Linked DNA regions of Homo sapiens: region 2 is linked to region 1. Evidence: fine-mapped expression QTL. Tissue or cell type: skin. Region 1 holds a variant in brackets; the other region holds the start of a gene. All regions are shown on one strand. Distances are from middle to middle.

The links. PIP is the estimated chance that this variant, and not a neighbour inherited with it, causes the effect.
Region 2: SLC1A2 starts here. The variant in region 1 is fine-mapped to the expression of SLC1A2 in skin (TwinsUK, PIP 0.95).

What each region holds. Positions count from the first base shown.
Region 1 is chr11:35,388,514-35,393,513 of GRCh38, reverse strand. All of the region lies in intron 1 of SLC1A2 (solute carrier family 1 member 2), which reads left to right. Among named protein-coding and RNA genes, the nearest start is that of SLC1A2-AS2, 28 kb to the left of the region's middle. The variant AG/G (reference allele first, on the strand shown) is at 2,851.
Region 2 is chr11:35,416,447-35,421,446 of GRCh38, reverse strand. It overlaps SLC1A2 (solute carrier family 1 member 2), which reads left to right and starts at 1,889. Exons shown (of 11, transcript NM_004171.4): 1 at 1,889-2,497. The coding sequence starts at 2,481. SLC1A2-AS2 (SLC1A2 antisense RNA 2) reads right to left here and starts at 2,390. Exons shown (of 2, transcript NR_186310.1): 1 at 2,340-2,390; 2 at 445-911. RefSeq lists an enhancer at 1,743-2,243.

The sequences.
Region 1 (5,000 bases):
TGGGGGATATGGGTGCTATGGGTCACCTGCAGCCATCTAGCTTTAAAATGACCGGGGAAGAGCCTCCTGCATTCACTGTGGGGAGAAGTCAGGAGCTGGGCTGGCCTGTGTCTTCAAAGTGGCAGCTTTAGAAATCAGGAGAGTCTCCTGGGACCAGCTCAAGCTGCAATAAAATGCGGTGCCATTCATGCATTAAACAGATCCTTACAGAGAGGCTGCTGCTCTGCTAGGCGTTAAGGACAGCCCTCTGGAAGACAGATACAGCCACATCTGGCAGCTGCATGGAGGCCAGCAGCCCGAGACCCTGGGTGATGATGCATCTTGGGCTTCTGCCACCTGCTAGCACCACACTCTGACCCAAACCTTCACATGGGACACCTGGCACCAAGAAGGAGGATAGAGATGTTTGAATCTAGGACCAGATACTTACTGGATTAATGACTTGGCCTCTCAGAGCTTCAGGTTCCTCATAGACTCCCACCATAAAGTAGGTATGATAGCACCTATCTTGGACGGTTGTAACGATAGTCATCTGTCATTTGACCAGTGCTGGAACATATAGGTATATAGGTGCTTGGAAAAAGGTGGCTATTTTGAAATATTCTATGATTTAAGCCCTGGTGTGCTTAATACCCCCCTGAAACACCTAAAGTTGAGACTTCAAGATGTATAAAACCTTCCAAATAGATTCATGCCACATTTATCCACCCTCCCTCTCCAAGCATACACATGCACTGCTGAATCTTCCAGAAGGGGAGGTCCTAAGGGTGCCAAGCCTGAACAGATACTGGGAGGAGGACTCGGGGCATTCCCTCCAGACAGTTTTCCCAAGACCCTCCACTGCCATTGGGAAAAAGAGTGTGGGAACCCCGGGAGTCTTAATTTAGGCAGCCAAAGGGTGGGCCTTGGGAGCTCCAGCTCTCTCAGATTTCTGGTCTGGCAAGATGGAGTATGAATAAGAAACTCAGTAAGCATTTAACTGCTGATTGACTCTGGGAATTCCCAATAGTATTCGCAATAGAGAAGGCAGGTCCCCTTCCCCCAAATGTCAGAAGCCGGCTTCCTCCGCCTACTCCTGGTGACTTCCACCGCCCTGGACACATGGGGGCGCTGCAGCCCTACTTTTGCTGGATGCCCTCCCCGTCCGAGTCCTGAAAGACCCTGATTTTCCTCTGTATCTGGGTGAGTTCACATTCTCTGTGTCTTCCTATGTAGAAATCAGCGAAAGCTCAGCAATGTACTTAGAAAATAAAACCAAAAATGTGCACCTTAAACCAGGAAACAAAAACTTACGCAAGCAATGCATTTTTTTAATTGTACAAACACTTAAAAGTATGTGTAAGCAAAAAGAATTCCAAATACCCTGTGAGAATAATATTCAAAACACACACACACACGTGCACAAACACATGGAATGGGACGATAAGGGTGATTTTTATTTATTTATCAAGATAAGGTATCATTCTGCAAACTATTTTGTTATTAGCTTTTTCACTTAAAAATAGCCCTGCTTGCAAGCAGGCTCTGTGGTGCAATGGATAGCGCATTGGACTTCTAGCCTAAATCAAGAGATTCAAAAATAGCCCTGCTAAATATTTGCAATCTTTCCTACGCTCCTTTTTCCCCCAAAGTGACTTTGGATATCCAGAGTTACCAAATCTAGTATTTGAAGTCCTTAGGTTTGAGGGTTGAAAGTGAAAGGCAAGCTGTTTTAATGAAAATTCCTAACTGAAGAGAGCGGAGACTTAAGATGCTTAAATTTTGGTCACACCTGAGCGGTATTTGTTTGCATGGCAGTTAGAAGGCAGGTAATTTGTCCTAAAACTAAAACAGCAGTTAACAACCTTTAAATTCCCTGAGGAGATCCCTTCTTCCCCAACCAAACCTGTTCCCATTTCCTTCTAGACTGGTTGACGGTCAGGTGGGCTGATTGGTTCTCCCTGCTACAGTGGTAGAATTCAGCGCTGTACCTAGGTAAGAAGGGTTTTGGAGGGTGTATGGGAAGGTACACACAGGGTAGAGATGATAGCACAGGCTTTGTGGTCAGACTGGCAATGGTTCAAATCCCAGCTCTGTGACTTCTTGCCCAGGTGGGTGGCCTCAGGCAAATTACTTAATCGCCCAGAGCCTCATTGGTAAAACAGGGTCATAAAACTCTCACAGAATTGTGACTGGCAGATTATAAGCACCCAATGCTCTTTTAGGGGTTCACAAAGTTTTTCTGCAAAGAGCCAGATAGTGCATATTGTAGGCTTTGTGAGCCATACAGTCTGTATCATAATGAGTCAACTCTGCCATTGCATCACAAAAGCAGCCACGGACAGTATGTAAATAAGCGAGCAAGGCTGTGTTCCAATAAAAGTTTATTTACAAAAATAGATGGCAAGCTGGATTTGACCTGTGGACCATGGTTGACTGACCCTGCTCGTGATCATCCCCATCCAACAGAAATATAGCAGAGGCCACAGATAGAATACTAGATTTTCTTGTAGCCACACTATAAAAGGAAAGAGAAACAGGTGAAATTAGTTTTAAGAATAGATTTTATGCCCGGGCGTGGTGGCTCACACCTGTAAGCTCAGCACCATCGGAGGCCGAGGCGGGCAGATCACTTGAGGTCAGGAGTTCCAGACCAGCCTGGCCAACATGGAGAAACCCTTTCTCTACTAAAAATACAAAAATTAGCTGGGTGTGGGGGCTGATGCCTGTACTCCCAGCTACTTTGGAGACTGAGGCAGGAGAATCGCTTGAACCAGGGAGGCGGAAGTTGCAGTGAGCCAAGATTGTGCCATTGCACTCCAGCCTGGGTGATAAGAGTGAAACTCCATCTCAAGAAAAAAAAAAAAAAAA[AG/G]AATAGATTTTACTTACCTCAATATATCCAAGTTATGATTGCTTCAACATGTAACTAATATGAAAAATTCCTTAATGAGATGGTACATTTTATTTTTTGGTAATATTTTCAAACTCTGCTGGTATTTTAAACTTATGACACATCTCATTTTGCACTGGTCACATTTCGAGTGGTCAGTAAAACGTAACCTCAATATTGCTTCTCAAACTGCAGGCCAAAACCAATTTAGTGGGTCAAGAAAGCAACTTACTTAAAAAAAATCAAATTTTAAAAATGAAATGGAGGAGAATAGAAACTATCAGGGTACACTACATGTAGGAAGGACATGGGTCGTTTCTTGTACTTTGGTGTGTGAATGCCTGTGTGTGCACGTGCCTGTGTGTGGGTGTGCGCTGAGACATCATGAGAAAAAGAAGACATCTATTTCTTACTGTAGATTGCACACAGACATGTTTGAAACTCATTACTGTACGTGCTAAAGTCAAGTGGGTTTTTTGTTTGTGTTTTTGTCTTTTAGAGCAGGCTAACTGGGGTGTTTAGCTAGTGCTTCACACAGGCTGTGCTGTTGACCGAATAAACATCCAAAACCAGCTAAACCAGTTGCTAAATGTCATAGTGACCATTTAAAAATACAAATCAAAGTTTCAAACTTTAAACTTTATTATCTCTATTCTTAGCTTTAAAGCATGCTCATTTTACAGATAGCAAACAGAAATCCGGAAAAGTGAAATACTTAAGACCCCAAAACCTTGGCTGGGCCCAGTGTCTCATGCTTGTAATCCAACACTCTGGGAGGCTGAGGTGGGAGGATCACTTGAACCCAGGAGTTTGAGACCAGCCTGGGCAATATAGCAAGACCTGGTGTCTACAAGAAAATTTAAGAACAAAAAAGAGGCTGGGCATGGTAGCTCATGCCTGTAATCTCAGCACTTTGGGAGGCTGAGATGGGTGGATCACCTGAGTTCAGGAGTTCAAGACCAGCCTGGACAACATGGTGAACTCTGTCTCTACTAAAAATACAAAAATTAGCCAGACATAGTGGCTCGTGCCTGTAATCCCAGCTACTCCGGAGGCTGAGGCAGGAGAATCGCTTGAACCCGGGAGGCAGAGGTTGCAGTGAGCCACGATCATGCCATTGCACTCCAGCCAGGGTGACAAGAGTGAAGCTCTGTCTCACCAAAAGAAAAATAATAATAAGAAGAAGAAGAAGGAGAAGGAGAAGAAGAAGAAAATACTAATAGTTAAAAACAAAACAAAAAAAAGACCAAAAACCTGAGAAGTAGTTTTGGAACGAGAATGAGGAACTCTGTGAACTCAGCCTTGAGCTCCTTCCTCACCTGCTGGGCTCTCTACCTGGGCATGTGAATGGGAAACTGGGCCAATTCACCCAGTGATTTAAGCATTGAGTCATTTTTTTGCTTGGAATATTTGAATATATGAAATAAAAGTTAAAGAGGTATTGCTTTAAAGCACTTCATTCTCTTATTGATTCTTTTATTGACTCTTCCACAAATATTTTTTTTCCCTCAGTTTTTGGTCATCTACATATTTAGGTTTTTAAAAAATTAAATTAGTTTTGTACTCAGGGGTACATGTGCATGTTTGTTACGTGGGTATATTGCATACTGGTGGGGACTGGACTTCTAGTGTACCCGTTACCCAAATAGTGAACATCGCATCAAATAGGTAATTATTCAACCCTCACTCCCAGCCCCTTTTGGAGTCCCCGGTGTTTATTATTTCATCTCTATGTCCACGTGTACCCAGTGATTAGCTACCACTTATAAGTGACAACATGTGATATTTGGTTTTGTGCTTCTGAATTAGTTCATTTAGGGTAATTCCACCTGCTCATGCTTTCTGAGCATCCGAAGGTGTATCCTGCTGGGAAACAAATGTGAAGGAGGCATAGGCTCTACATGCTCACAATCTGGGGTAGGGTGTTATCTTTCAATAAAAACATGTCTGAGTGGGGCATGGTGGCTCATGCCTGTAATCCCAGCACTTTGGGAGGCCGAGGCGGGAGGATCACTTGAGTCCAAGAGTTTAAGACCAGCCTGGGCAACATAGGGAGACTTTGTCTCTATAAAAAATACAAAAATTTAAACAGGCATGGAGGCACACACCTGTAGTCCCAGCTACTTGGAGA
Region 2 (5,000 bases), 28 kb before region 1:
TAAAGTTAGACAATTAGACTGTAAAGTTTGTATATGTGACAACTTCAGATACAAAGACACACACTTACCCTTGACGGGGCTTAAGAGGAGAGTGTCAAACATAATACCAAAGTGAAAGAAGATAGCTCTTCATCTACAAATTATTTTTAAACACATTTACCAGGTTAAACAATAACTAATTTTTCGGAAGAGAAGAGTACCCAAAGTCAAATGCCCTAAGACGAAGAGATGCTTATGGCATTTTTTTTTAAATAAAGAAAATGCAAAGTTAGAGTGGTTCTGAAGGAACCTAGGATGAATAAGGTACAGACATGATTATTCTAATGGTGCAGACAGGATTGAGAGAGAAGGGGGGAGGGGAGAGATGGAGAAAGGCATGGATGGAAGATGACGTTTGGATTCAGATTTTGGAAAGGAGAGTAAAGGAAGGAGGTAAGCAGAGATTTATTTTTTAAATTTTATTAATGTGTTTTCCCCTCTTTTTCTTGTTATTTTTCTCATCTGTCTGTTCATACTTGGATATTTTGTCCAATAAACTATCTTCTAAGGACTCTGAAAATGCACTGAATATTTTTGGAGGGTTTACTGGGTGCCAGACGCCACTTTAGGAGTTTTACATATCCTCTCCATTTCATTTAGTTCTCTTAGCACAGAGAAGTGGGAGAAGATAGTCCCATTTTACAGGTGGGATGAAGAGAGAGATGGAGGAATTTGCCCCAGGTTACTCAGCTAGAAGGTGGTGAAGAACTCAAGCCTTCGGATATCAGCGCCTGGCATTTAACTACCAATCGGTCCTGCTGGGACTCCGGCTCCTCTGGCACCATCCCCGGGACCTACTCAGAGAGTTTGCACGTGGCCGGTCGCGTTCCATCGTCTAACAAGGTCCAGCACAGCGCAAATCCGAAGATCGTCTACCCCGGGGAAAAAGAGAGTCTGTTTAATTCTCCTGTGGCCCTCCAAGTGAGTTCTTTTGGGTTCCATTGCCTAGACGAGGAAAGTGAGGCTTTGCCTGCTCTGCGCTCACAGGGTCGGCAAGTAGTGGGACCCTAGGTTCCTGCAGTATTCCAGAGATAATCAAAGCTGCACAGGTCTCGTCATTTTTATGCAAAGGCGTCCGGAAGGCTCGAACTCTCCCTTGCACAAGCCCATCTGTCTCTGTGCGCCGCCCCCGGGACACGGAAGCAGGCGGCGAGCAGCGCCGAGTGGGTGGAGAACCGTCCCCCGCCACTCACCCCTCGGCCAACTCTCCGCGCCTTCTCAGCCGGCACCCACGAGGCCGACCTCTCTCGGCCTAAAAAAAAAAAAAAAAAATCCCGGCCTCCCCTGCACCCCGCCCGCCGCCCCCAGGGAGCTGCATTAATATTAATCTCGCTGAATAATTGAAGGCCAGAGATTTATTCGAGCTTCGGCGGGGGAGGGAGCGCAGCTGGGCCGCGTTTAGGCTGCACCACCCGCGTGTTTCAGCCGCTCGACTCCGCTGGACCTGGGACCCCCAGACGTGGGAGGATGGGGTGGGTGTGCCTGCCTGTGAGTTTGGGGGTGAGTGTGAGCTGAAGCGGGTGCTCCGGGGAGTGAGGAGGGAGCGCCAGGGGCTGCTCCAGGGAGGCGGAGACGGAGGGGCATCCCGGGTCTCCGCGCGGTCGCCTGCGCTTCACCCCGCACGGGGTGACCTGGGGCCACGCGGGCTTCAGGGGAAACAATAGCTACTCCTTAGATCCTGGGCTCCTGCCACCGGCTGCCCAAGCCTTCCCGGACGAGCGGCGGGGCCTCTTTTCTTATTTGGCTAATTTATGGCGAGAGGCTGGGGGGAGGGATGGCAGAGGAGGGACCGCGACTGGAGATGGGGGCGGGGGGCGGCGGTTAAAGGAGTTGCCCGAGGCGGCGGCGCGGGTGATGTCAGCTCTCGACGAAAATAGAGAGGGATCGCCTGCAAATCCCCAGCTCCGGCGGGGCTAAACCTTGCAATCCCTCCCTGGCCGGCGCCGAGCCAGAGCGCAGCGGCCTCCACCGCCTCCCCAGGCGCGCACACACCCGCACACGCGCACGCACGCTCACCGTCCTCTGCCACCACTCTCTGCTCCCGCCACTCGCCGCGCCCGCGAGCCCCGCAGCAAAGCACAGGTGGCAGCGGCTGCAGGGGCGCATCGCCGGCGTGCGCCCTCCTGCAGCCCTGGGCGCATCGCTCTCTCGGGGAAGCCACCCTCGGAGCCCCCGGAGCTCCCCGCCAAGCGCCATCCCCGCGGGCGGAGGGGAGCGCGGGTCGCGCGCCGTGGAGAGCCGGGACGCGGATTAGCGCCCGCAGGAGCCTCCTGCGCCCGTTGAGGCGCTAAAGGGCTTACCCCGGAGGCGGGTGGAAGGGCGGGCAGAGGCTCCTCTTAAATACCGCTCCCGGCCGCACTTCGCGCTCACCCCGGCGTCCGCTTTCTCCCTCGCCCACAGCTGCCGGATAGTGCTGAAGAGGAGGGGGCGTTCCCCAGACCATGGCATCTACGGAAGGGTGAGGGGATTTTTATCTGTACCCGCGGGAAAGCGGGGTCACGCGCGGGGTGGTGGCGCCCCTATCCGGGATGCGGATAGAGAGGCGGCGGCGGCGGGCCTCGGAGGTGGTGGCGGAGCCGTAGCTTGGCTGGGGATGGGATGGTGGGGAGGGGATTGATTTTCTTTCCTGGAGATTGCTGCTTAATCCTTTGAAAATGCGAGAGGTGGAGGGTTGTTTTATTTTGATAAAAAGGGTAAGGTGCGCTGGGGGCCTGAGAGTGTGAGGAAGAAATCCTCTTGAGGTTACTTTTGGGATTTCAAAACAATAGGGGATTGGGCATAGTGTGAGCAGACACCGGGGTAGCAGCGCCTGGAGCGCGGCGCCCCAGGCCCGAGGCGGGCTTGCAGGTGGTGCCGGCTCGGAAGGAATGAGCCAAGACAGGGCCCTGGGGCGGGGCAAGGACCAGCGCGCGCGGCCTTGAACGCCAGGTTTGCAGAGTCGCCATGGAGATGCTGGGCCCGCTCCGATCGGTCCTTGTCCCTGGAAGGCGGAATCTCCCTGGCTAGCTCTAAGGAAGGGTGGAAGAGATTTGGGTGCTTCCCGGGAGGCGGGAAAACGTGTGGTTTGGGACAAGGGCAGGAGTCGCCAGACTCCAGCGGGCAGGGATAGCATTGGCTTCCCTATTCAGCCCGAGGATCTGGAGTCGTGTCCTGCCTCCCAAGATTCCAGCTGGCATGGGGAAAGCTCCCTCGCAGTGATAACTAAAGACAATTGTCTTTAGCAAGAGACAGAAGGGGCTGCAGGGGGCAAAAGGATTCTTTGAATACTCACACATCAAAGGAAAGGTCCACAGAGTCCTTGGACCAGTATCTCCCAGAAAACTTTTTGGGCTTCGTAGAACCTGAGTGGCAATGAAAAGACTGGGCAGCTCAGCCCTTTGGTTAATTCCCAAAATTGCAGTTACTCACTTGCAAGCGATCACAAAATCCATGTTATGTGAAAAGCAAATATCAGGGGCTTCTCTGGGCTCAAGTGGTGGTGTTGGCATTTTCCAGTTTCTCCTAAGAAATTTTACCAACTCCGCAGGCTTGTTTTAGGGGAATGGATCTCTAAACAGGCTGAAGAGCTGGTATCCAAAGCCAGATCTCTAGACTGCAATCTCCAATAGAAGGAAAATATTTCTAGAACTGTCTCTCTGTCCAGGAGAAGGAATTCATTCATTTTCTGTCCCCCAGAGTCCTTCCAAAGGCATCTGGCATCTTGTCATTGCATGAAATTTTGTCTCTCCCTTTGCCCTATTTTGCAGTTTAGACTTTTTTGATTATTATTTCTCCAAAAAGATGTTTCAGGAAGACACCTGTGTACAAGGAGGGTGGTACCTTGTGCTAAAACAGATCTCTAGAAATAGATACTAGGAGCCCATATGGATCAAGATCAGTGTCTTACCATGTTTAGTTAAAAAGGCTTTTATATTAGAAAAGATATGAAAGAATTTCTGGTTGCCTTCATGGACCTTCTAGACTTATCCTTGCTTGTAAAGGCTAGGGTGGAAAACATCTGTGAAAAAGATGGATGATATTAGTCTTCCAAATCCTGCATCCAGCTCACTCCCTATTTTGATGGCCAGATAGAGAAGGAGAGGTTACAACAACAACCCCAAACTAAGTAAGTTTATTTCACCTTTGTCCTAAATGAAAGCTGTCAAATGATGTGACATTCAATGTAGAGCCAAAGTGATTTTCGGCATTTTAGAAAGATTCCCATCCAATTAATCCCATCTTTCTGCACTGTTTATGGTTAAGAAAAGATTCATCAGAGGAACTTATATTTAAGAGAAGAAAGAATTGAAAAAAGTTGAACGGCTGGGAAACAAATATAGGATCTATGACCCATTATTATTTAACAGCAGTAACTGATGAGCAGGTGACATTCTCAGAAGCCCTGGTCTTTCCTTTCTTCTTCTCTTCTTTTCTTGCAGGAGCATTTACTGAGCACTTGTTGAGTGGAACTCACATGTGAGGAACTCCGAGTTGGGGGGATACAGAAATAGTCTGGGATTTGCCTTTTAGAAGTCTAGCTCCATCCAGTCAAGGATTTTTATTAGTAAATTGTTCACGTGGACTCATGAGATCTCTTGCAACTTCTAACATCTTTGGTTAATGTGCCTTGTAAAGAAAAATTTACTAAGACTCCTCAGGCTGTCTCCTTTGTTAGCTTTTGCCCTCTAACAATATTGAAATTGTTTCCTTGAAACATACATTACTGAGAAGGAAGCAAAAATAGCAATATAGTTATATGCTTTCAATTTATATATTTTCAGTTCAACTTTGTTTGATCCAGAATGTTTGGGGAATAGGATAATATGGGAAACTGACCATTCTGGTTCACATTTATTTGGTGATGTAATTATCAGCCGCAGAACATGTTAATTACCAATTTCTAAAGAATTATTAGAAGCAATAATGACATCTTATGTTTGTTTAACACTTCACTTTCAAAGCTCATTCGTGTACCTCATCAC